7 linked regions of the Homo sapiens genome follow. The protein of the gene in region 1 purifies or fractionates together with the protein of each later gene. This does not show direct contact. Each region holds a gene or a part of one and is shown in the gene's direction. Other genes may lie near its edges. The genes, in order: NIPSNAP3B, GLS, ACSF2, PDK1, PDK2, MCCC1 and TMLHE.

Region 1 (4,136 bases):
CATTTTTACAGACTATCTTCTGATAATCTGTATTTACAGCTATGTTATTTTATATTTTTAAAATCTTACAGCTATAAAATAGTAAATTGTGAATTAGCTGTCCAAGGGCAATTTGGAAAACAAACTGTACAGTTTCCTCTCATTTATCAGGCTCTAAGCGATCTGCAGTTTATCTGGGCTATTATGCAATGTGAGATATTATTTATGAGAGGCAGGCAGTGGCAGCTTAAACAGACATACCTCCTCAGCATTCTTTTCCATGCAGAGTTCAAAGAGGCCTAAGACATCTCACATTTATGTGAAATAGTTGAGGCACAAGTATGTGGTTAACTACACATAAATTACCAATAAAATTAAAAGTTAACTAAAATACTACAGAAGACATTTAATATTTTGCTTCAGACTGTTATAGTACCTTAGGGTTATGAACATCAATTACCTTTGAGCCTTACTATATTTAAAGGGAAGGGGAAGCTGACATTTTTATCTTTTTTAATGGGTACACTCTACGTTACCTTAAAGGCTTCCCCGGTTTAAGCAAAAATAGAATTATGTGGTTTAAATCATATACCTTATTCTTCATACTTAGCTCCAAGTAGATTATGACTTTTCCTAAAACTTAACATGACAGAGATTTGCCTTCCAGGGGGTCTAATTTGAAGAGGAAAGTAATTTAAATGTATAGGTTTATATAATAGCATTGTATTTTTCTCTATTTTATTCATTCTTTCATTCTCTTCGATGACTCCCAGCACCTGCGCGTCCATCTTCATTCTTAGCCAATGACCTTTCCTTTTACTTAACAGAGAAAATAACAATCAGAAGAGTCTTCATAAGTTCCCACCCCGTCTGCCCGCTTTCTACAGCCAACCCCACATGCCCTGCCTTCTCTCCTTTCACTGTGGATGAACCGCCCGTGCCCCAAGCAAAGACAAACCCTCCACTTGAACACTCACTTGCTGAAGGATGTGGCTTAGGCAGTTTTCCTGTCTCCTGAAGCCACAGTATTCCCCTTCAACTGGATTCTTCTCCTCAGCATATAAATATACTTTTTTTTCCTATCTTTAAAAAAAAAAAAGAGTAAAATCACCCCATTTTTTTCCTTTACAATATGACTCAAAAGAGTAGTTCATACTTCCTGCCTCCATTTTCTTCCCTCACATTATCTCTTAAACATTCTCTGATCACGCCAGCCAAATTGCTCTTGTCAACTCATTTCCCAGTTCTCATTTCACTTGACTTGTTAGCAGTTGACCTCTCCTTTCTTCTGGGAAGTTTCTTCGTTTCTCCGAAACACTCACTGCACAAGCCTTCATATCTCCTAGTCTCCATCTTGTCTCTTTGACCTCTGATGTAAGGACTGAGTCCTTGGACCACTTCTCTTTTCTATTTATACTTACTCCCTGCGTCATCACCCCCAGTCTTGTGGCTTCAAATGCTATCTGTGTGTGGATAGCTCCTCCAGTCCACACCTCTTTTCTGAATCTTTTTTCAAATTCACACATGTGAATTTGAATTCCAGGCTCATCACATCCAGGTGTGTTCCCCACACCTCCACCTGAATGTCTATTAGAAATCTCACACCCCTCTTGTCCAAAACTGAGCTCTTGATCTTTAACCAGAAACTTTATCTCAGCTATTGGCAACTCCAGGTTTCTGTTTTGCTCAGGCCACAGACTTCAGAGTCATTCTCACACTGCCTTTTCTCTCATACACCATTATGTACCTGTCAGCAGGTCCCAAATATCTAGAATTTGATTGCTTCACATCCCTATAGCAACTCTCCTGGTTCAAGCCCATCATCATCTGGATTTTTGGGAAGTGGTCTTAACTGGTGTGCTGCCCTTCCCCTCTGCTCTCAACCCTATTTTCAACATAGCAGTCAGAATAATCTAAAATATAAACCAGATCATATCACTCCTCTGCTCAACACCCCCTCCCAATACCTTCATGTCATCCTCAGAGTTATTGTCCAAGCCTCTAACTGTGGTCTACAAGTCTTTACATGATCTGTCCTGTTACATTTTCCACTCTCGCTCCAGACCTGACCTAAGAGGCTTTTCTCTGAACTTGCTAAACATGCTCTTACCTGAGGGTCCATTCCCACTGCCTCTGCCTGGAATGCTCTTCCCCAGACATGCATCTGCGTGGATCATTTCCATGCCTCCTCAGGTCTTTGCCCTCATGAAGCCTTCCCTGACAACCCTATTTAAGATTGTAATCCCCTCCCACAGTGGCCCCTATCTGCTAGAGACTGAATGTTTTTGTCCCCCCAAAATTCCTATGTTGAAGCCTTAATCTCAACATAGGAGGTTTGGCCTTTGTGAGTTAGTTTTAGATGAGGTCATGTGGGTAATAGAATTAGTGCATTTATAAGGGCGTGAAGAGCCCTCACTGTGAGGAAACCAGAATGTAAGCCTTCACCAGAACTTCTTCATGCTGGCACCCTGGTCTTAGACTTCCCAGCCACTAGATCTGTGAGAAAGAAATGTTTGTTGTTTAAGCCACCCTGTCTATGGTACTCTTGTTACAGCAACCTGAACTAAGACACTATCCCTCTCCCCTGCTTTCTTTTTCTGTTATCACCATAATTAATGTTTTACTTATATATGATTTGTTAATGTATGTCTCTTCCCACTAGAAACCGAATTCTATGACAGCAAGGGTTTTTGTTTTCATTATTGTCATATTACCTGTGCCTGGCATGTGATAAGCCCTAAGTACTTGTTGACTGAATTAACATATGAGATCTGTGAGTCTGAAAAAAGAAGTACATCATTCCTTCACATGTCATTTTGAGCCACTGTTAACAGATTACATAACTGTTATTGGAAGTGCCTCACTACTCCATTTGGAAAGTATTCCTGGAATACACGATGAATGACTCAGTAGAAGTTCTGGCTATGGGGGAGTGCCATCAATAAATAAAAATAATACCATTGTCTGTTGGTTATAAGTTGCTGTCACAGACTATGAAGGTATTTGAATTGTATTTTCAGGAAGAGAAACAGATATGCAACCAATCTGATTTGGTTCCACACCCTGCCACAGAAGTCCCAAAGGAGAAGCAAATGCCACTTGTAGACTCAAACTCTGGACTTCATTCTCAGCACCATCTCTTAACCTACTGAGTAAATCCTATGAACCTGACTAGGGTGGCAACTGAAGTTGTAGTACTTTCTGTCTTCAAAGGAGGGTGAACCTGGAGTATGTTGGAAGAAGTGTTAGGTTCATTAGAGACACCTCTTTCATAACTGCTGTCACCTAGAATGTCTATTCTCTAAGCACCTTCTTGAAAGAAGCACATTCCCCCAGGAGGAGGAAATGGTTTGTTTTCTTTAGTGACAGTTGGCCCAGGATCCTAAGGTAAAGGAGTATGGGCACTAGACAAAATGAGTTTTATAATAGTCGATTGGAAGGAATGGAAGTTTTTGAATCACAGGCTTCTGCCTTGAAAGGGCAAGTCCGTGGTGGTCATGAACCACCCAGAGTGTGTACAAGGCTCCTGCCAGAAGAAATGCCTGTAGGATTAAAAGCAAAACAGCAGAATCAAAAAGGAAGGGCACGATGATGCCCAGGTGCAGCCTATATTATTAACAGACAAGGAAAGAATCCAAATAAAAGTTCTGTAAACCAGCTGTTGTCCTGTTTTCTGTTTCCCTTCAAAGCAAAAATATAGATTTGCATATATTTGCAGTCTCCCCTTCCTTGCCTCTCAGTCTTCCCTGAAAATCTATTCCAGTTAGGTCTGCATCCTTGTCATGCTGAAATGACTCTTAGGAAGGTCACCAAGGACCTCTGTCTTAACAAATTCAATAGCCATTCCTGCCTTTACTCATTTACATTCCTTACTCATCTTCTCAGCAATGTTGGACATAATTGACAACTTCTGCCTTCCTGAAACAATAATTCTCTGAGCTTCAACATATGGCATTATACTCTTCAGATTTTACTCTCTCTCACTGGCCAGTCCCTCTCAATTTCCCTGGCTAGCTTCTCTTCTAAATGTTATAGGATCTCAGGCTCAAGAATGTTCCCTATCTTCATTCTCTCTAGGTAATCTCATTCAGTCCCGAGGCTTAAATATATACGTACCAATAACTTGCACACTTTTTTTTTTAGATGGAGTTTCGCTC
Region 2 (2,616 bases), on another chromosome or scaffold:
AGTTGTAAAAAAGCACTATGATTAAAAACTCCTTTATTGGCAGTATTCTAAAACCTCATGTTAGGTTGACAGTCTTCTTCCCTTTCCCCAAATTTTAATACCCACCCCAGGTTTCTAAAGCAAAAAATTGAAGAGCATTTTCCTCCTGTGTTTATAATCCCAACTAAAACACTATGTAATACATGTTGGAAATATTACTGTGCTTTGTATATGTATTAATTTTTTTTGCCCTAAATTGGCCTCTAGGAATGTGAAAGTAGATGTACCCACCTGATAAGAAAAAGTGAGCTAAGTAACTAACTTGATAACTAGGCATTCAACAAGTCTTTTTCTCTATTTCATAGAATCAGTGTCACCTTAAATTATAATAGGTTTGCACAGAATTCGTGAATTCTTGAGATAGAGTCTTGCTCTGTTGCCCAGGCTGGAGTGCAGTGGCGTGATCTCGTTCACTGCAACCTCTGCCTCCCAGGTTCAGGCAATTCTCCTGCCTCAGCCACCTGAGTAGCTGGGATTACAGGTGTGTTCCACCACGCCCAGCTAATTTTTGTATTTTTAGTAGAGAGGGGTTTCGCCATGTTGGTCATTCTGGTCTTGAACTCCTGGCCTCAAGTGGTGCACCCACCTTGGCCTCCCAAAGTGATAGGATTACAGGCATCACTGTATCTGGCTGAAATTAGTGTATTCTTTAAAGTTCATATTTTTCATTAATTCACAGAAGAATTGTAAAAAAGGTAACACGCAGTTGACATTCCATTTTTCCAGAAAGACAGATAATTACATACTGTAGAGGATGACTCAAAAGTCTGTTTCAAGCCACTGACTTCCTAAACTAATGAAGGCCTATTCAAAGTCACTTAATTCAGCTGTTTTTTTTTTTTTTTTGATAAATACAAAGATACATGTAAAGTTTTACTTACCTGATTTTAAAAACAGGCTACCAAAATTTATCCAAATATATTAAAAAATGAGACTGTTTTAAAAACCTTTCGTTTCCATATTGTGACTCCACTAAGCGGGTAAAAAGTTCAGGACAGAGATGGAAAGGAAAGAAGGAAACAGGAAGAAGTGAAACTAGGAAGGTGGTGCCAGTGGCACATGGATGAAGAAAGAGAGATCATCAGCCATGGAGAATTTTGTAATGTAAGTAGAGAGAGAGATTGGGTAGGAAGACAGGCTTCACAGTTTGTAAAGTGTAAGGGAACTACCCATCGTACCCTGTCATTGACTAGGGCTGTGAGTTATGTAGTTCTGTCTCCTCTTGCAAAAGACTTACCACTTCTGGCAAGTGATTAACCACTTCTGGCAACTCTTCATTTCTTCTTATCCTTGAATATTCATCTACATCACTCTAAACAGCACAGCCCCAGAAGCATGGAAAGGGGAGTTATTAGTATGGAAAGGGGAGTTACTCTTCTGGTGTAGTGGTCCGATTGAGTCCATGGCTTCCCAGCCTTACCAGAGGTGATAAAAATGTCAATTCCTTTGGGGCCAATCTTGCTCCTCCAGTGTGTTTTAGCCCTAATGAGGTCATGGTTATTTCTAGACTTCTGAGACTTACTGTGGCTTTGAATTGACACAAACACTAATTTTCTGTCAAAGGCTAGAGTGATGGATGTTATATGCCTGAATTTTCTTTGAACATTTTATTTTAAAAGAGATACTTTGGGCTTTTCATGAAACTAAAATTCTGGAACCCTAGAGCAGTCTATTATATCTGTCACCACAAGGACTTTCCTTAAAAAGCTCCCTCCATAAGCACTTGGATGTGTAAACAAGATCCTTTCACAGATCTTTTTCTCTTCCTCTCCATATCCCAACTTGTCTTGGAGACTACTTTTTGAATTATAAATCCCTTTCTGCATTTCTATTATTAATTTTTATTTGTAAAATTGCTAAAATAGCTAAATTTGGCCATTTAACCTGCATTTAAAATCTAGGAATGTGGGGTGATCATCTTTGTACATAAATTACCTAATGACCCTGTCCATGCTGTGCTACGTGTTTAGGTGGAATAACACTCCCATGGATGAAGCACTGCACTTTGGACACCATGATGTATTTAAAATTCTCCAAGAATACCAAGTCCAGTACACACCTCAAGGAGATTCTGACAACGGGAAGGAAAATCAAACCGTCCATAAGAATCTTGATGGATTGTTGTAATGGTCTCAAATCCCAAGATTTAAATCACTTACCTATTTAATTGTGGAAAATGATTATGAAGAACATGTGTATTTCTATCTGGTAGTGATGTATATTTTACATTTGTCATTTCAGTGTTACTGGAGTTTTCTTCATTGTGCACACAGGACAAATCTGATCTCTTTGGGAAAAAATAGAAATAAAACAATCTCCCTCCATAATGTGAGCAATATTACCTCGTGCATTGTATAATTTGATGTAAAAGAAATAGTTACCAATGCTAGCTTGTGTGGTCTTCCATGATTTATTTGTGTTTTGTGAATTTTCAATTTATGGTGATGATCTGCTGATATGCATTTATAAAGTAAGCTCTGTTGTACAGTCTGTCCAAATGGGTCAAGGTTGCCTTTAGAAGCAAATAGTGTGATTTTCAAGACTTCAAATACAAATTTAGTTTAAGTGTTTGAACAA
Region 3 (3,500 bases), on another chromosome or scaffold:
CCTCCATTTGGGAGTTAGTTGACGGGAAAGCAAATCCCAGTCCTACCAGTCCTAACTTAGTGTGGCTTTAGGCAAGTTACTGAACCTCCGCAGACCTTAGTTTGTTTGTAAAATAGGCTGTTTGGACAAGATGTGCTCTACCTTTGGGAGAAGATTCTGTGATTCCTAAAGAGGCTGGAGTTTGAGCCTGATCCCTAAACCCAATAAGGCTGTGATTTGAAGTATGCAGCCTTCATACGTGTGTGAAATTTCACTTGGTCTCTTATGAACCCTGAGTATGCAGCTTCCTAACCTGACATTCTGTAATTCTGTAGTCCCCTGAGCAAAAAGAAGCATCAAGTTTTGTTTTATACACACACACGCACACACACACTTAAATATGTTTTTCTTTTTCTTTTTTTTTTTTTTGAGACGGAGTCTCGCACTATCACCAGGCTGGAGTACAGTGGCGCGATCTGGGCTCACTGTAACCTCCGCCTCCTGGGTTCAGCAATTCTCCTGCCTCAGCCTCCCAAGTAGCTGGGATTACAGACACCTGCCACCACGCCCAGCTAATTTTTTGTATTTTTAGTGGAGATGGGGTTTCACTATGTTGGCCAGGCTGGTCTCAAACTCCTGACCTCGTGATCCGCCTGCCTTGGCCTTCCAAAATGCTGGGATTACTGGACTCAAACAATCCTACTTCCTCAGCCTCCTGAGTAGCTGGGATTACAAGCACAAACCACCATGTGCACCTGGCTACCTCAAAGGTTTTCTTCCTAGAAAACTAATATCTAGCCTTGTATGTATTTTAGTAATCCTATCAAGGGACAAGTGTCTTGACTCAGCCCCCATCCCTGATTCCTAGGCACTCTTCTCCTGGGGTCTCTGTCCAGCTATTCCAAAAGAAAACCTGCAGCATGGATGCCTCCTGACTCCAAGTATTTCAGGCTACTCTGTCACCTGGGATGGAGTGCAGTGGCGTGATCACGGCTCACTGTAGCCTTGACCTCCCAGTCTCAGGTGATGTGCCCACCTCTGCCTCCCAAATAGCTGGGATTACAGGTGTGTACCACCATGCCTTGCTAAATTTTTTGTATTTTGTTTTGGTAGAGACAGATTTCCACTTTGTTGCCCCAGGTGGTCTCAAACTGCTGGGCTCAAGCGATCCTCCCAACTCAGCCTCCCAAAGTGCTGGGATTACAGGTGTGACCCACCGCACTGGCCCTTCTATGTCTTCTTGAGAGAGTTTTCTAAACCCAAATTATCACTTCTTATGTATTTTCTGTACATACTTACAAACACACCAGTGGTTCCATTCAAGATGCTGAAAATGGGCCAGGCACAGTGGCTCACACCTATAACTCAGCACTTTGGGAGGCTGAGGTGGGAGGATCGCTTGAGCCCAGAAGTTTGAGACCAGCCTGGGCAACATAGGGAGACCCCATCTCTACAGATAATACTTTTTACAAATTAGTTGGGTGTGGTGGCATGTGCTTGTGGTTCCAGCTTCCTGGGGGACTGAGGCAGGAGGATTGCTTGAGCCCAGGAAGTCGAGGCTGCAGTGAGCCGTGATCATGCCACCACACTCTAGCCTCAGTGACAGGGTGAGAGCATGTCTCAAATAATAATAATAATAATAACAAAACAAGATGCTGAGAATGGAAGCTTCCACCAATATAGAGTATCTTGTTCAAAATCTTTACTGGGCTGGGTGCGGTGGCTCATGCCTGCAATCCCAGCACTTTGGGAGGCTGAGGCAGGTGGATCACCTGAGGTCAGGAGTTCAAGACCAGCCTGGCCAACATGACGAAAACCCATCTCTACTAAAAATACAAAATTAGCTGGGCATGGTGGCATGCACCTGTAATCCCAGCTACTCGGGAGGCTGAGGCAGGAGAATCTCTTGAACCCAGTGGGTGGAGGTTGCAGTGATCCGAGATAGCACCACCTCATTCCAGCCTGGGCAAAAGAGCAAAACTCCGTCTCAAAAAAATAATTTTTTTTTTTTTTACTGTAGTCCTTACTAGTCTTTGTAGTCGTTTGTAGTTTGTTCTTTGTAGTTGGTATTTTTCAGAGGTCACATACTCCTCAGGGTGGTTATGTCGAGTGGTAGAAAGATCATGGGGCTTTATGATATAATTACATACAGTAAACTGCACAGATCTTTTTTTTTTCTTTTTTTTATTTTGAGACAGAGTTTCACTGTTGTTGCCCAGGCTGGAGTGCAATGGCGCAATCTTGGCTCATCACAACCTCCGCCTCCCAGGTTCATGCGATTCTCCTGCCTCAGCCTCCCAAGTAGCTGGGATTACCCGCATGTGCCACCACGCCTGACTTATTTTGTATTTTTAGTAGAGATGGGATTTCTCCATGTTGGTCAAGCTGGTCTCAAACTCCCGACCTCAGGTGATTTGCCCGTCTCGGCCTCCCAAAGTGCTGGGATTACAGGCGTGAGCCACCGTGCCTGGCCTGTGTCTGGCTTTTTTTGCTCAGAAGCCAAGGAGTGCTTTTGGGAGGAGCAGCTCATTAACCTTGACAAAAACTCACAAAAGTGAGTTTTACGTATTAAACAGCTCAATGTTTCAGAGTTCTGTATGTATTCTAGTATTATTCCTTTGTCAGACATGTGGCTTACAAATGTTTTTCCCCACTTTGTAGCTTTTTTTCATCCTCTTAAAAGGGTCTTTTGCAGAGCAAAATTTTTTAATCCTTTTTTTTTTTTAATTTTTTGAGAAAGGCCTCACTCTGTCACCCTGGCTGGAGCACAGTGGTGCAACCACGGCTCAGTGCAGCCTCAACCTCCTGGGCTCAAGTGATCCTCCTGCCTCAGCCTTCCAAGTACGTAGGACTATGGGTACACGCCACAAAGCCCAGCTAATTTAAAAAATTTTTTCATAGAGATGGATGGCACTGTGTTGCCTAGGCTGGTCTCCAACTCCTGTGCTCAAGTGATTTTCCCACCTCAGCCTCCCAAAGTGCTAAGATTACTTTACAGACGTGAGCCACTATGCCCAGCCCATATAGCAATTTAAAAAAATTTTTTTATAAAGTCTAATTTATTAAGTCTAGTTTATAAAGTCTAGTTTAGTGAGTTTTTTTTTTTAGATGGGATCTCATTATGTTGCCCAGGCTGGTCTCCAACTCCTCGGTTCAAGCAATTCTCCTGCCTCAGCCTCCCAAGTAGCTAGGATTACAGGTGCATGCCACTGCACCCAGCGCTCAGTGAGTGTTTTTTTTTGTTGTTTGTTTGTTTTTAATGGATCTTGCTTTTGGTGTCAAGCCTAATAACTTTTTGCCTAGCTCTAGATCCAGAAGATTTTATAATTTTTTTTTACACTTAAGTCTGATTCATTTTATTTTTGCTTATATAGAATGTGAGACTTAGTCAGAGTTCATTTTTGTTGTTGTTGTTGTTGTTATTTTTTATTTTTTTTATTTTTTATTTTTCGAGACGGAGTCTCGCTCTGTTGCCCAGGCTGGAGTGCAGTGGCGCGATCTCGGCTCACTGCAACCTCCGC
Region 4 (3,500 bases), on another chromosome or scaffold:
AGCCCCAGCTGATCTTTGCCATATGAAAATACTGCCCATATCATCTGATTGTTTTCTGATTTTAAAGGAAAGCTACAAGTCTAGATTTGTAATGTAAAATCTCTCACTTTTGAAAGATTGGTAACTAATTAAAACATTTTTTAAAACACAGAAGGCCTAGAAGAACATGGTTGCAGGTCTCTAGTTTATGCTGTATGGCCTGCAAGATGATGTAAGTAATATGACAATGTTAATAACCCATATACCAGAATTGGTAAACCAAAGTATTTGCCTTATGCAGCTACCTGCTTATTGCAGTGAAGGGTACTGAGAGTGTAATGACCATCTCTTGTCCTCAGTTAGTTACACATGTTTTTTGGACTGTCTTTAAAGTGAACAGTAACACTTCATTTTTTTAAACATGATTTTAATCTGAAAATAACTTCAGCAAGAGTTTACTCCTTGCTTAGGTATTGAGCAGACTTTACATGAATGATGTTTTTTAATCTTTAAAACAATTCATTGAAATAATGCTGTTTGTGCACAAAGAGGGTAAGTAGTTTAAGGTTACATAGTTAGCAAATGGTAGAATCCAAGCAGTCTTACTTTAAAAGTAAACATTATGTTATAGAGCCTTCTGAAAACAGTCATTCAGAGCTGTGGAAAATAAGTAGTCAAGCAGAATAATACAGATTTGTGTTTCTTTGAAGCAGAAAGAAAATAATAAAGGAGTGACTAGAATGATGAGTTGTTTGTTGTTTTTGAAGAGTTTTGTTGTTTGTATTTTAGTTTAACAGTCTTGTTTTGAAGCGCATTACTAACTAGGAATTCCAAAAATGTTTTAAGCAGTGGAAACATCATTGGAATAAGTTAATAGTACTCAGGATGATGACTTTGAATAGGAAAGCACTCATTTGGAAGTGTAAATTCAGATGGGTTATGTTAGAAAATTGGTTTCGTTACTGCATAATTAAGACTTCTTGGGCCGGGCACGGTGGCTCACGCCTGTAATCCCAGCACTTTGGGAGGCCGAGGCGGGCGGATCGTCTGAGGTCGGGAGTTCGAGACCAGCCTGACCAACATGGAGAAACCCTGTCTCTACTAAAAATACAAAATTAGCCAGGCATCATGGTACATGCCTATAATCCCGGCTACTCAGGAAGGCTGAGGCAGTAGAATCACTTGAACTCGGGAGGTGGAGGTTGCAGTGAGCCGAGATTGCGCCATTGCTCTCCAGCCTGGGCAACAAGAGCAAAATTCCATCTCAAAAAAAAAAAAGACTTATTTTCTCTTTTATTTAGTTATTTAACCATGCAGTGTCTTCTAAGTGACAGAGATGGGAAGACTAGATGATTTGAAGATTTGTCTTTTAATATAATTGTTTACTTTTCCTCTCCCATTTTATAAACTCATAGGATGAGTGAAATGAGAATTCTTTTCTGTTTTTCTGTCCTAAGTGTTTCCTTCTCTCTTTGAACCCTAGGGAATAGGTCCAAAACAGGCAGGCTTTATTGGCTCATTCATCTTGATTCCTTGCAGAGCAGAGCAGGTGTTCTCTAGAGGCAAGTGCTTTGTCTCCTCCTATGCAGAATGTCTCTGGAATACCATCCTCTTAGCCAGTGCTCAGATGACCTTAGTTGATAACAGTTAAAACCATTAACATTTTTTGGATTACGTTTTGTGGCAGCCTTACTCTTAGGAAGCCAAGAAAAGAATTAAATCTTGAAAGTTTTATTTTGGAGGTCTGTATACTTTCATAGATTTGGTATATTTTATGATCTGAAATACATTTAAATAAGTATAGGAAAACATGAACCGATTTTCCTTTTATTAAATTGGGGATTTTTTGTCTAGCATAGTTGGTTAAGCTTATATTTTTGTATTAAGTTTACTTGTCAAAATATTTGGCTGTTTTGACAGATGGGTTTGTTTAGCTTTACAGATACTGTGATACGGATCAGAAACCGACACAATGATGTCATTCCCACAATGGCCCAGGGTGTGATTGAATACAAGGAGAGCTTTGGGGTGGATCCTGTCACCAGCCAGAATGTTCAGTACTTTTTGGATCGATTCTACATGAGTCGCATTTCAATTAGAATGTTACTCAATCAGCACTGTAAGTGTCCCTCATGAGTCAAGAGAAGAAGCTAAATGAGATGTGTTGGCATATTTTAAATTTATTTAGGAAAGTTCCATTTAGGTAGGAAATTTAGTTTTACCTTTTGGCTAATTAAGAAAAATAAATAGACTGCCATCAAGAAAGGTGTTTTTATTGAATGTAAAATACTATGTTTATCCTAAAGGAAAATATTTGTTCTGTTTGGTACAATTTAAACAGTATTCAGATTTGGAAAAGAGCATTAGGTGGTTTAGCTTATTTTGTTGGTTTTTTTCCTTTTTGGATAGCTTTATTGTTTGGTGGAAAAGGCAAAGGAAGTCCATCTCATCGAAAACACATTGGAAGCATAAATCCAAACTGCAATGTACTTGAAGTTATTAAAGGTAAATACTGACATTTCTCCTTGCAAAAAAAGATACAAAAATCAAAATTATTGTTATTTCTTACTATTAAAACATCTATTTGTATCATGAGATAAAATGGTAGGCACAAATGCATGGGTTTGAAAATAACCTTATAGTATTATTTGTGCATTATGTATAGGATGACTATTTTATTGATAGAATTATTTGTTAGGCAAAGTTTGGTGATACTATAGAGGATATCTTTTTTGTTTTGTTTTGTTTTGTTTGAGACAGAGTCTCACTCTGTTGCCCAGGCTGGAGTGCAGTGGTGTGATCTCAGCTCACTGCAGCCTCTGCCTCCTGAGTTCAAGCGATTGTCTTGCCTCAGCCTCCCCAGTAGCCGGGATTACAGATGCTCAACACTACGCCTGGCTAATTTTTGTATCTTTAGTGCAGGCAGGGTTTTACCATGTTGGCCAGGCTGGTCTGGAACTCCTGCCTGCCTGCCTGCCTGCCTCGGCCTCCCAAAGAGCTGGGATTACAGGCGTGAGCCACCGAGCCCAGCTGAGGGTATCTTTCACTTAAAAAAGAATTGAAGTCCCTACTGCCCTGTTTCTAATTCTTACACTATGAGCAGTAATTCATAACAATTTGGTTTGAATCATTTCACACTTTTTTCTATTTATACCACTTGTACACATACACAATTGATGTTGGTCTTACATTGTTGTTTTTAGAAAATGGGGTGCTCTATGTTTTTTTCTACAAGTTTACAGACATCTTGCTGTTCAGTACATCTGGATATGCTCCAAGGTTTTGAATGGCTCTATGGAATGTATCAGTATGTGTTAATTAATTCTCCTGTTCATGCACACTTAGGTTGTTTTAATTTTTTTCTGTTACCACCAATACCAGCAGTACTGCTGTGAACATCCTTAAATACACGCTCACTTTTGCTAGTATTTTAGAGGTGAGATTCCTAGAATTAAAAACATTTAAATGCATATAAAATTTTGGTATCTCCAAAAAGGTTTCAAACAATGGATAAGAGTGTT
Region 5 (3,500 bases), on another chromosome or scaffold:
CCGCACCTCCCACATCTCCCCAGTCTGCACAGATCTCACCTGTCGGATGTCTCTCTGTCACCTTTCCTCCATCTTCCCTCTCTTCTGTAGCTCCCAAACCCCCAATTTCTACCTTTCTCCTGGTGTTGTCCAACTTGTCAGCACCTCCCTGTTAGAAAACTTGAGACTCAAAGGAGCCGTGGGGCCTGCTCTGACTTCCTGGCCCCTGAGCGGAACTCCTCTCTCTGCCCAAGCCTCCCTCCCGCATTCATGATTGCCCCATTCACCCCACACACACTTCTTACCTCAGTGTCCCCTCCCACATGTCCCCTCCCAGCTCTGGGACCCCTGCCATGTGACCCCAGCTCCACACCCTTCCCTCCCTGCATCAGTCCCTGCAGCTCCAGGAGGCCCCTGCCAGCCTCCTCATCCTCACTGCCTTCCTGCCCCGCTGCAGGCTGGCTTTGGTTATGGGCTCCCCATTTCCCGCCTCTACGCCAAGTACTTCCAGGGAGACCTGCAGCTCTTCTCCATGGAAGGCTTTGGGACCGATGCTGTCATCTATCTCAAGGTGAGGGCCCTTCCCGCAGAGCCCAGCTGGAGAAGAGCTTTGCTGATAGGACCTGGGCAGCCTTGGCCAGCTGCGAGCTTTCCTTTCCATCCCCCCAGTCCTTCCCTGGCCCCAGACTCTGAGAATCCAAGCAAAGCTACAGTTCCTCAACCTGAAGAACCCTCAACCCCCAGACACGCACTGCTTGTCAGGGAATTTAGGGGAGTCTGTGGTCTATGATTAAGACCCCTGTGCTGGGAACCCTTGACTTGTTAGACCCAGAAGGAAGGGGACACCCTAGGTCTTGCCATTCAGTTCAGAGGAGAAGACTGAGGCCCGGAGTCCGTGACTTGCTCAGGGTCACACAGCCCAGCCTCCTCCCCCTCCCTCTCCCTCCCTTAGAGGGAGCTGCTTGCTTGAATGGGCAGGAGCGGGACACAGGAGGGACCACCCTTTTGTGGTCTTTCCAGGCCCCCGTGTCTGGCAGCTGGGCTGCCGCTGAGCTGGGGTGGGGTGGTCTGCTGAGGAGTGGACAAGGCACAGGGAGGTGGGAGGGGCTGACCCTGACACTCCCCAGGCCCTGTCCACGGACTCGGTGGAGCGCCTGCCTGTCTACAACAAGTCAGCCTGGCGCCACTACCAGACCATCCAGGAGGCCGGCGACTGGTGTGTGCCCAGCACGGAGCCCAAGAACACGTCCACGTACCGCGTCAGCTAAGGGCCGCCGTGCATCTGCACCTGAGAGGACGGACTGCCGCCTCTGGGTCCCCCCACCGTGGTGCCCCTCACCATCCTCCTGGGGGAGCAGGGGGTGGGTTCTCCCTGATGACCAGGTTCTGTCTCTATGGAAGTCACTGCGGTGATAGGTCTGTGATGGTCCCTAAGTGCCAGTCCATCTCTGTGGAGACCCCTCGGTGGCCTCCCTATCTCTGTGGGCGATGCCTGAGGGTTAGGGATGTCTCCACCCTGATGGGGTGTCCCAGAGACATTTTCCCATGGCAGTCCTCCTCTCTGAGACCAGGGCTGTCACTTTTCTGCCAGGGGTACTGGGTCCCCCTCAGCACCCTCCACAGCACAGGCCTTCCAAGTGGATGTCCCGTTGCCTTATTCCCCCAGCCCACAAAGGCACCCTGGCCTTGGCCTGCTGAAGTGTTAGGAAGAGGGTGGGTGCCCTCCAGACCTGGGGACTGAGTGGGGAAAGGAGTTACACCCGTGAGTGGGGAATGAGGCTGGTCCTGCAGCCTCTCCCTCCGCTCAGGGCTTGAAGGTCGGTGGCGGAGGGGGTGGCTCTCACAGGGCCCAACTCTAAAGTGGAAGAACCTTGTTAGACCGAGAGCTTGCCATCCAGCCAAGCTGCTCGAGGCCCTGCAGTGGCCTTGGCAATGTCTGTGCCACCTCCTGAGCCCTCCCAGCATGTCCTCACATGCTCATGCCCACCCGCTCCTCCACAAGCCTAGTCCATCCTGCCTGAGCTCCAGCCCCCAGCCCCCACTGTGCCCAGACATGTGTGCTCAGGGTGGCTTTCTCCCTAGGACCTTCTGTGTATATAGTTAGTTTTATAACCCTGAATGCCCCCACCCTTCCCCTAAGCACACAGGGGTTAAAGCTGTGTGTCCCTCCCAGTGGCTGTGGCAGTGACAGTGACACCCACACCCACAGTAAAGAGGAGACTGAATGAGACTGGCCTGGCTGCATCCCTGGGGGAGGGGACCCACACGTGCGCACGTACACACGCACACTGCGGTGCCCTGTGACCACCACATGACGCACCGGGGACGTCCGGCCCAGCTCAGGACTGTGAGTAAAACACTGGGCAAAGCCATCTGTTCAGAACGCCGGATGGCCCAGCACCTGGTGACAGACCTGTTGTCCCACCATACTCAGGGCCCAGCAGAGTCCGGCCAACCCAACAACTGGAGCAGACAGAAATTCTGGTCACTGGCACATCATAAGGATTTATTGAAATAAATTGAGAACTGCCTCCCCTTCACATGCAGGTGGGCACCCACTATAGCTACTGATGGCTTTAAGGATGTGGGTGCCTTCCAACCTCCCATGGCCCTGCCACCAGGCCCAGATGGTGCCAGTGTCCTCATATCTGTTTCCCTCCGAAGCCCCTCTCCCAGCACAGATAGCAGAGGGGGGATAAGGGCTGAGTCCCAGGTACAGGGTGCTGGCCGTAAGCCACAGCCCCTGGGCAGGAATGAGGGAGCCAGCATGCATTGGTGCCATCTGCCGCTCTGTCTGGGCAGATGGGAGGAGCTGGAGGGGTTTCCAAGCGGGAGCCCCCAGGCCTCATCGGTAACTCTGACCAGTGTCCTGGAAGCGGGACTAGCTGCTGACCAGCGCCACACATGAACACTTCCTCCAAGGACATTTCCTAAAAAGGACACATGCTGTCCCCAGGCTGCTGGTAAACTCCACCCCCATCCAGGGAGCTGGCCCCAGCCCTCAGTGTGGCCCAGGGAAGCAGAGCTTGCACCGCCTGCCAGTTCTGAGCCCACTGATTCCCTGACAATGCCTGGGGCAGATGGGGGAGGGCTGATGAACCTTTCCAATCTCGTAGCTGCCGGGGACCCCCAGGTTTTGCCTCTCTGCCTGGCTGGGGTGAGGGCTGACCAGGTCAGCAGCTCCTAGGCCTTGGCTGGTGGAAGTGGTGTCCTCTGTCCCTATCAGTTCCTGTTTGCTCAGCTCCCAAAGAGGACTTAGGTGCCCTCTGAGGAAGCAGCAGGAAGTGAAGGGAGTCCTGGCTTGGAGAATGGGTCAAAGACCAGGTCTTGAATGGGCCCTGAGAGGCAGACCTGTGTGGTGTCATCTCGCCCCCTGGGACCCACAGGACAGAGGAGGGGAGAGGGAGAAGGGGATGTTCATCCTCCCCTCTTGAGTCCTGGCAAAGACTGCACTCGCCCCAGGCTGCTTTCTCTGCGCTCCTGTTGAGGAGTTTGGCTGGGAGTCTACCCTGAGTGCGACT
Region 6 (2,390 bases), on another chromosome or scaffold:
TAGAAAAGAGTTTTACTTTAACTTTGTGAAATTGCACCTGTCATTTCTGATTCTGAAATTAATGAAATTATCAATAGCTTGGAATCAGGCGATAATCCAACTGAATGTTAACTGTTGGTATTTTCTAAGATAATCCAACTGAATGTTAACTGTTGGTGTTTCTGGAATGTTAACTGTTGGTATTTTCTAATGTTAACTGTTGGTATTATCTTGGTTCTAAGGCCGAACCAAGGATGCCAGGCATCAGTTTCAAAGTGAAAACCGCAATCAAATTAAATTAGCTGTTTAGGTTTTTAGATGGTTCAAATGGTAGGTCAGTGATTCTTAGCCCTGGCTGAATATTGCAGACAGTCCTCAACTTACAATGGTTCAATTAAGGATTTTTCAGCTTGACAATGGTGCAAAACCATACACGTTGAATATGCTCCTCAGCTTACATTGGATTTATCTGGACCTGACCCCATCGTAAGTCAAGGAGCATGTGTACAGTCACCTGGGGAGATTTGAAAAAATTCTTCCCCAGACCCATTGAATTGCAATCTCCAGGAGTAGAGCCCAAGGATCAATACTTTTGAAAGGCTGGGCGCAGTGGCTCATGCCTGTAATCCCAGCACTTTGGGAGGCAGAGGCAGGCGGATCATTTGAGGTCAGGAGTTCACGACCAGCTTGGCCAACATGGTGAGACCCCATCTCTATTAAAAATACAAAAATTAGCCAGGCATGGTGGTGCATGCCTGTAATCCCAGCTACTCAGGAGGCTGAGGCAGGAGAATTGCTTGAACCTGGGAGGCAGAGGTTGCAGTGAGCCGAGATCTTGCCACTGCACTCCAGCCTGGGTGACAGAGCGAGACTCCGTCTCAATTTAAAAAAACAAACAACAAGGCCAGGCGCAGTGGCTCACGCTTGTAATCCCAGCACTTTGGGAGGCCGAGGTGGGTGGATCATGAGGTCAGGAGTTCAAGACCAGCCTGGCCAACATAGTGAAACCCCGTCTTTACTAAAAATACAAAAATTAGCCAGGTGTGGTGGCACACACCTGTAGTCCCAGTTACTTGGGAGGCTGAGGTGGGAGAACCGCTTGAACCCGGGAGGCAGAGGTTACAGTGAGCTGAGACCATGCCGTTGCACTCCAGCCTGGGTGACAGAGTGAGACTCCGTCTCAACAGCAACAACAACAAAAAACAAAAAAAAAAAAACAAAAGCAAGCAAACAAAAAACTGTTGAAAGCTTCCTAGGTGCAATTCTCATGTGAAGCTCAAGTTGAGAACTGCGAGCTACACCAGAGCTTCCCAGTCATATCGTTGAAAGGTTACTGCTGTGTCCCAGTGTTCATTCCTCTCAACTTGTTACTGTTCTCCCTGTGTGCTGTGATGTTAAAAATAAAAACAACAACAACAACAAAGCGTTGGAAAGCACCGAGAGATGACAAAACATCAAAGTTGGCTACAGTTTTCATTTTTGGTCTCCCTTTCTTGACTTGGTGTATACTCAGTCCTCATTAGTATTGCAGCTATCATTTGTCCTGTCATGTGTCTCTGCAGCATACCATAAAGTCTCCAAAGGATGGCACAGTAAAGAAAGTGTTCTACAGAGAAGGTGCTCAGGCCAACAGACACACTCCTTTAGTCGAGTTTGAGGAGGAAGAATCAGACAAAAGGGAATCGGAATAAACTCCAGCAAGGAAATGGCCAGTTAAGTAGTGTCTTCTCTCTCCACCAAAAAGAGGAAGTGCCTCCAGCTTTTCTGGGGGTCTCATAAAGAGCAGTTTTACTAAATGATTGTATGCTTATGCTGAACACCTTTCATATTGGAGAATCATGCATTTGGGTCACTAATTATCTCAAAATATTTCATACTAATAAAGTTGAATTATTTTTTATTGGAAGCCAATGTTTGTTTCTGCCTCAAATTTTTTACAAGGTAGTCTCTTTTAGGAAGGGGGGAAGAGAAAAGGACATTTAATTAAATGAATTACTTTCCAGTTGCTGTTATGATGAAAATGAGCAGTAATATGTTTCAGAGACAGGTGCCCTGGAGTTCAACAACTAAGGTTTTGTCTGGCCAAAAAGCAACTTGCTAGGTAGTTTAAAAGACATGGATATTAGTCGGGCGCGGTGGCTCACGCCTGTAATCCCAGCACTTTGGGAGGCCAAGGCGGGCAGATCACTTGAGTTCAGGAGTTCGAGACCAGTCTGGCCAATATAGTGAAACCCGTCTCCACAAAAAATAAGCTGGGTGTAGTGGTGAACATCTGTAGTCCCAGCAACTTGGGAGGCTGAGGCAGGAGAATCGCTTGAACCTGGGAGGCAGAGGTTGCAGTAAGTCGAGACCGCACCACTGCACTCTAGCCTGGGTGACAGAGCGAGACTCTATCTCAAAACAAATACATA
Region 7 (3,500 bases), on another chromosome or scaffold:
GAAATATGGTTAAAGATGATCACTAATAAATAATAGGAAATTTTTTAAAAATAAATGTACATACCCAGAATAACAGATGGGTTAGGTAAATCTTGGTAATGTATATTTTGTAAGCTTTAAAAATTAATTTTAATGAAGGTTGAATTTTTAAAATGATAAAATTTAATTTTAAAAATTGTTAAAATGTTAAGTGACAATGGCAGAGTCCCAAATTTTATATATATAAATTACATAAACTATATTTATATACATAAATTACATAAAATAAGAGAATGTACAGAAAAACTGGAAGGAATGATGCCAGGCTGTCAATCATAGTTTCATCTGGGTGATAGAATGATAAACATGGTGACTTTTAATTTCCTCATACTTTTTTATGCTTTCCAAATTATCCAAAGTGTGATACTTTTTTACCAAGGGGAGGGAGGAAAAGAGAGAGAAGTAAAAAGGAGAGACAAGTTGTCAACATAGTCTTTCACTCCTTCTGCTGCTTCCTTTGCTTATCCTGAAGATTTTCTAAAGCATTTCAGGGTTGGTTTTCAACTTTTTTTGGGTGGGGTGTGCACAGCAGGTGAAGCCACTTACAAAGTAATTTTATTGTATTGTGTTGATGTCATATAATTAGACAGCAATGTCCTACATCATGTAGAAGAGGAAGGCAGCATTGAATAGTACTGAACTTGTAGCAGCAAGAAGGTGGGGTTCTAGTTCCACCTATAGTACTTAGTTGTGTGATCTTGAGTGAGTCACTGACTTTTTCTCCATCTGTAAAATAAAGATTAGCCCCTTCTAGCTCAAACATTCTGAGTTCCTATATAGATGGAAGACAGGGATGGGGGCAAGGGGAGAGAGTGCCAAGTAGGCTTGTAAAAGCCTACTTGGATTATCATTCTTTGATGACTTGATGAATTTTCCAGAAGATCTTTTACTATATAACTATAATTCTGTAAACTTATTTAGCCTCTGGGAAGATTTATTTGTTCATTCATTTATTCATGCATACCACTCAAACCACACATATTTCTTTCTCAGAAACATTCTAGGCATTCATTTTAATTTGGTTTCATAAACAATACAGTACTGGATAACTGATTGCTAGGAAAAAGATTCTTAACTAGTTGTAACCAATTACAAATATTGACATTATTTGTAATTATTATAGTGCCTTTTATTTTTCCCCTTAAAAGGGCCAGATGGTCATGTGACTAAATATGATTTGAATTGGCTGGTGAAAAACAGCTATGAAGGGCAGAAACAAAAAGTCATCCAGCCTAGAATACTATGGAATGCTGAAATCTACCAGCAAGCCCAAGTTCCATCGGTAGATTGCCAGAGCTTCTTAGAAACCAACGAGGGACTGAAGAAGTTTCTGCAAAACTTTCTGCTCTATGGAATTGCATTCGTAGAAAATGTCCCTCCCACTCAAGAGCACACAGAGAAGTTGGCAGAAAGGATCAGCTTAATCAGGTAATTCATTTGTTTCCTAAAATCCACAGTATTATAATTAATTTCCAGAGCATGAACACCAATAAATAAATGTAACAGGTATGGTCACCCTCGTTTTCAATCCAGAATATTTTGTAGCATGAATAAGGGACTCTCACTTGCAGTACTTTATTTGAGGTCTGGATTTCTAATCTCTAAATACACTTATGTGTAAAATATAATGATGACTGCAGAGTCATTGGTAATATGTTTCTAGCCCAGTGATCCCAAGTGACAGGTATTATTGTACACTGGAAAAAAACACTGACTGTAAGGAGAACTGGATAGTAGTCTGAGTTCTACCATCAAGTAGTTGTGTGACCATAGGCATGTCCATTACACACACACACACACACACACACCCCCTCGACCCCCACTGTCCTCTATTTTCCCATCTGTTCAATTTGACCTTCTGTGATTCCTGTGGCTTGATTCAGAGACTGATTGTTAATAACACTGCCTTAAAAGGCTATATAGCATTCAGCCAGCACATTCCCACCCATTATTTTCTTTTAATTATTATAGGAACCCTGATCAGTGTGTGTTTTGTCCCCGTTTTACTGCTGAGGCACTGACACTCAAATATACCAAGTGTCTTGCCCAGGAGTGCTCTACTAGTAAACAATAGAACTTGAATTCAAATAGCCCAGGTTTCCTAATCCTAAATACATTGTTTTTTTCATTACCATTACGCACTTTTGGGTGGTATATAGATTGATCTTCTATAGTATTAAGTGTGATGTCAACCTACTTTATTATAATTAGTACTTTCCTTTTACTTAATAAGATCCAGATATAGCTCATTTTGTAGTAGATAGTATGCTGGGTCTTCTTCCCTGTGCTGGTAGAGCATAATCAACAGCATCTGTGAGCCATTCAGTTTGAATCACAGTTTGAGAACTTTCAAGTGAAAGAAACTGTGCTGGTAAGTGATAAATTGAGACAGTTTTAGGGATGATAGTTCAAAAGGAAGAGCATTTCCTATTTGAACTTCAAGGGTTCAGAAAATAAGATGAACTTTGAAAGCTAAAGAATTAAAGTGACCTTTAGTCAGATTTGAGCCGAACAGGAAAATAATTACAAAATCAAAATATATGATGTATACTTCAAGGAGAGACACAACAACAATGGTACAGCAAGTCTCACTAAATACTTGCTAACACAAACTATCCTTTTCTCTTTTCTTTATTCCTCCATGTCCAAAAGATGAGTGAGGATCTACATTAATCACTTCTGTGTCTTATAAATAATATGAGAACTCTTCAGTCATCCTTGCAAATTGGATTATCCAAAATATTAGGAAATGACCACCATTATTGAAAAAATGGTACTAATAAAAGACAACAGCTATAAAAATAGTAAATAAAGTTAGACTTGGAACCAACCCAAATGTCCAACAATGATAGACTGGATTAAGAAAATGTGGCACATATACACCATGGAATACTATGCAGCCATAAAAAATGATGAGTTCATGTCCTTTGTAGGGACATGGATGAAATTGGAAATCCTCATTCTCAGTAAACTATCGCAAGGACAAAAAACCAAACACCGCATATTCTCACTCATAGGTGGGAATTGAACAATGAGAACACATGGACACAGGAAGGGGAACATCACACTCTGGGGACTGTTGTGGGGTGGGGGGAAGGGGGGAGGGATAGCATTGGGAGATATACCTAATGCTAGATGATGAGTTAGTGGGTGCAGCGCACCAGCATGGCACATGTATACATATGTAACAAACCTGCACATTGTGCACATGTACCCTAAAACTTAAAGTATAATAATAATTAATAAAATAAAATAAAAAAATCACTTCCAGAAGCAGCTATATCTTTTTCTGTGAAAGAAAGGTGAGCATAGAAAAGAACCTTGAATTTATGAAGGCTATGAAAACTGGGCACATAATCAGAGTGGGATGATTCTCCAAGCTTTCATAATACAATATTATACTTCCACAGTTTTCTCCCCAACTTTCTAGAATGTTAATAAGTGACAGAATTGTCAAGACT

Evidence for each region.
Region 2: the proteins of NIPSNAP3B (region 1) and GLS purify together in Homo sapiens (affinity purification with mass spectrometry; one large-scale study listed by BioGRID and IntAct). This does not show direct contact.
Region 3: the proteins of NIPSNAP3B (region 1) and ACSF2 purify together in Homo sapiens (affinity purification with mass spectrometry; one large-scale study listed by BioGRID and IntAct). This does not show direct contact.
Region 4: the proteins of NIPSNAP3B (region 1) and PDK1 purify together in Homo sapiens (affinity purification with mass spectrometry; one large-scale study listed by BioGRID and IntAct). This does not show direct contact.
Region 5: the proteins of NIPSNAP3B (region 1) and PDK2 purify together in Homo sapiens (affinity purification with mass spectrometry; one large-scale study listed by BioGRID and IntAct). This does not show direct contact.
Region 6: the proteins of NIPSNAP3B (region 1) and MCCC1 purify together in Homo sapiens (affinity purification with mass spectrometry; one large-scale study listed by BioGRID and IntAct). This does not show direct contact.
Region 7: the proteins of NIPSNAP3B (region 1) and TMLHE purify together in Homo sapiens (affinity purification with mass spectrometry; one large-scale study listed by BioGRID and IntAct). This does not show direct contact.

The regions. Positions count from the first base shown.
Region 1 is NC_000009.12:104,774,129-104,778,264, forward strand, and holds the end of NIPSNAP3B (protein NipSnap homolog 3B), read left to right. Parts: 3' UTR 1-3,636; downstream 3,637-4,136.
Region 2 is NC_000002.12:190,960,821-190,963,436, forward strand, and holds part of GLS (glutaminase kidney isoform, mitochondrial isoform 1 precursor), read left to right. Parts: intron 1-2,009; coding exon 2,010-2,166; coding exon of another isoform or gene 2,167-2,206; 3' UTR 2,207-2,616. UniProt on the Homo sapiens protein: Catalyzes the first reaction in the primary pathway for the renal catabolism of glutamine. Plays a role in maintaining acid-base homeostasis. Regulates the levels of the neurotransmitter glutamate, the main excitatory neurotransmitter in the brain.
Region 3 is NC_000017.11:50,432,718-50,436,217, forward strand, and holds part of ACSF2 (medium-chain acyl-CoA ligase ACSF2, mitochondrial isoform 2 precursor), read left to right. Parts: intron 1-3,500. UniProt on the Homo sapiens protein: Acyl-CoA synthases catalyze the initial reaction in fatty acid metabolism, by forming a thioester with CoA. Has some preference toward medium-chain substrates. Plays a role in adipocyte differentiation.
Region 4 is NC_000002.12:172,562,590-172,566,089, forward strand, and holds part of PDK1 ([Pyruvate dehydrogenase (acetyl-transferring)] kinase isozyme 1, mitochondrial isoform 2 precursor), read left to right. Parts: intron 1-151; coding exon of another isoform or gene 152-211; intron 212-1,521; exon of another isoform or gene 1,522-1,541; intron 1,542-1,913; coding exon 1,914-2,098; intron 2,099-2,388; coding exon 2,389-2,484; intron 2,485-3,500. UniProt on the Homo sapiens protein: Kinase that plays a key role in regulation of glucose and fatty acid metabolism and homeostasis via phosphorylation of the pyruvate dehydrogenase subunits PDHA1 and PDHA2.
Region 5 is NC_000017.11:50,108,851-50,112,350, forward strand, and holds the end of PDK2 (pyruvate dehydrogenase kinase, isozyme 2 isoform 1 precursor), read left to right. Parts: intron 1-436; coding exon 437-550; intron 551-1,106; coding exon 1,107-1,247; 3' UTR 1,248-3,302; downstream 3,303-3,500. UniProt on the Homo sapiens protein: Kinase that plays a key role in the regulation of glucose and fatty acid metabolism and homeostasis via phosphorylation of the pyruvate dehydrogenase subunits PDHA1 and PDHA2.
Region 6 is NC_000003.12:183,014,718-183,017,107, reverse strand, and holds the end of MCCC1 (methylcrotonoyl-CoA carboxylase subunit alpha, mitochondrial isoform 1 precursor), read left to right. Parts: intron 1-1,541; coding exon 1,542-1,670; 3' UTR 1,671-1,890; downstream 1,891-2,390.
Region 7 is NC_000023.11:155,511,953-155,515,452, reverse strand, and holds part of TMLHE (trimethyllysine dioxygenase, mitochondrial isoform 1 precursor), read left to right. Parts: intron 1-1,187; coding exon 1,188-1,467; intron 1,468-3,500. UniProt on the Homo sapiens protein: Converts trimethyllysine (TML) into hydroxytrimethyllysine (HTML).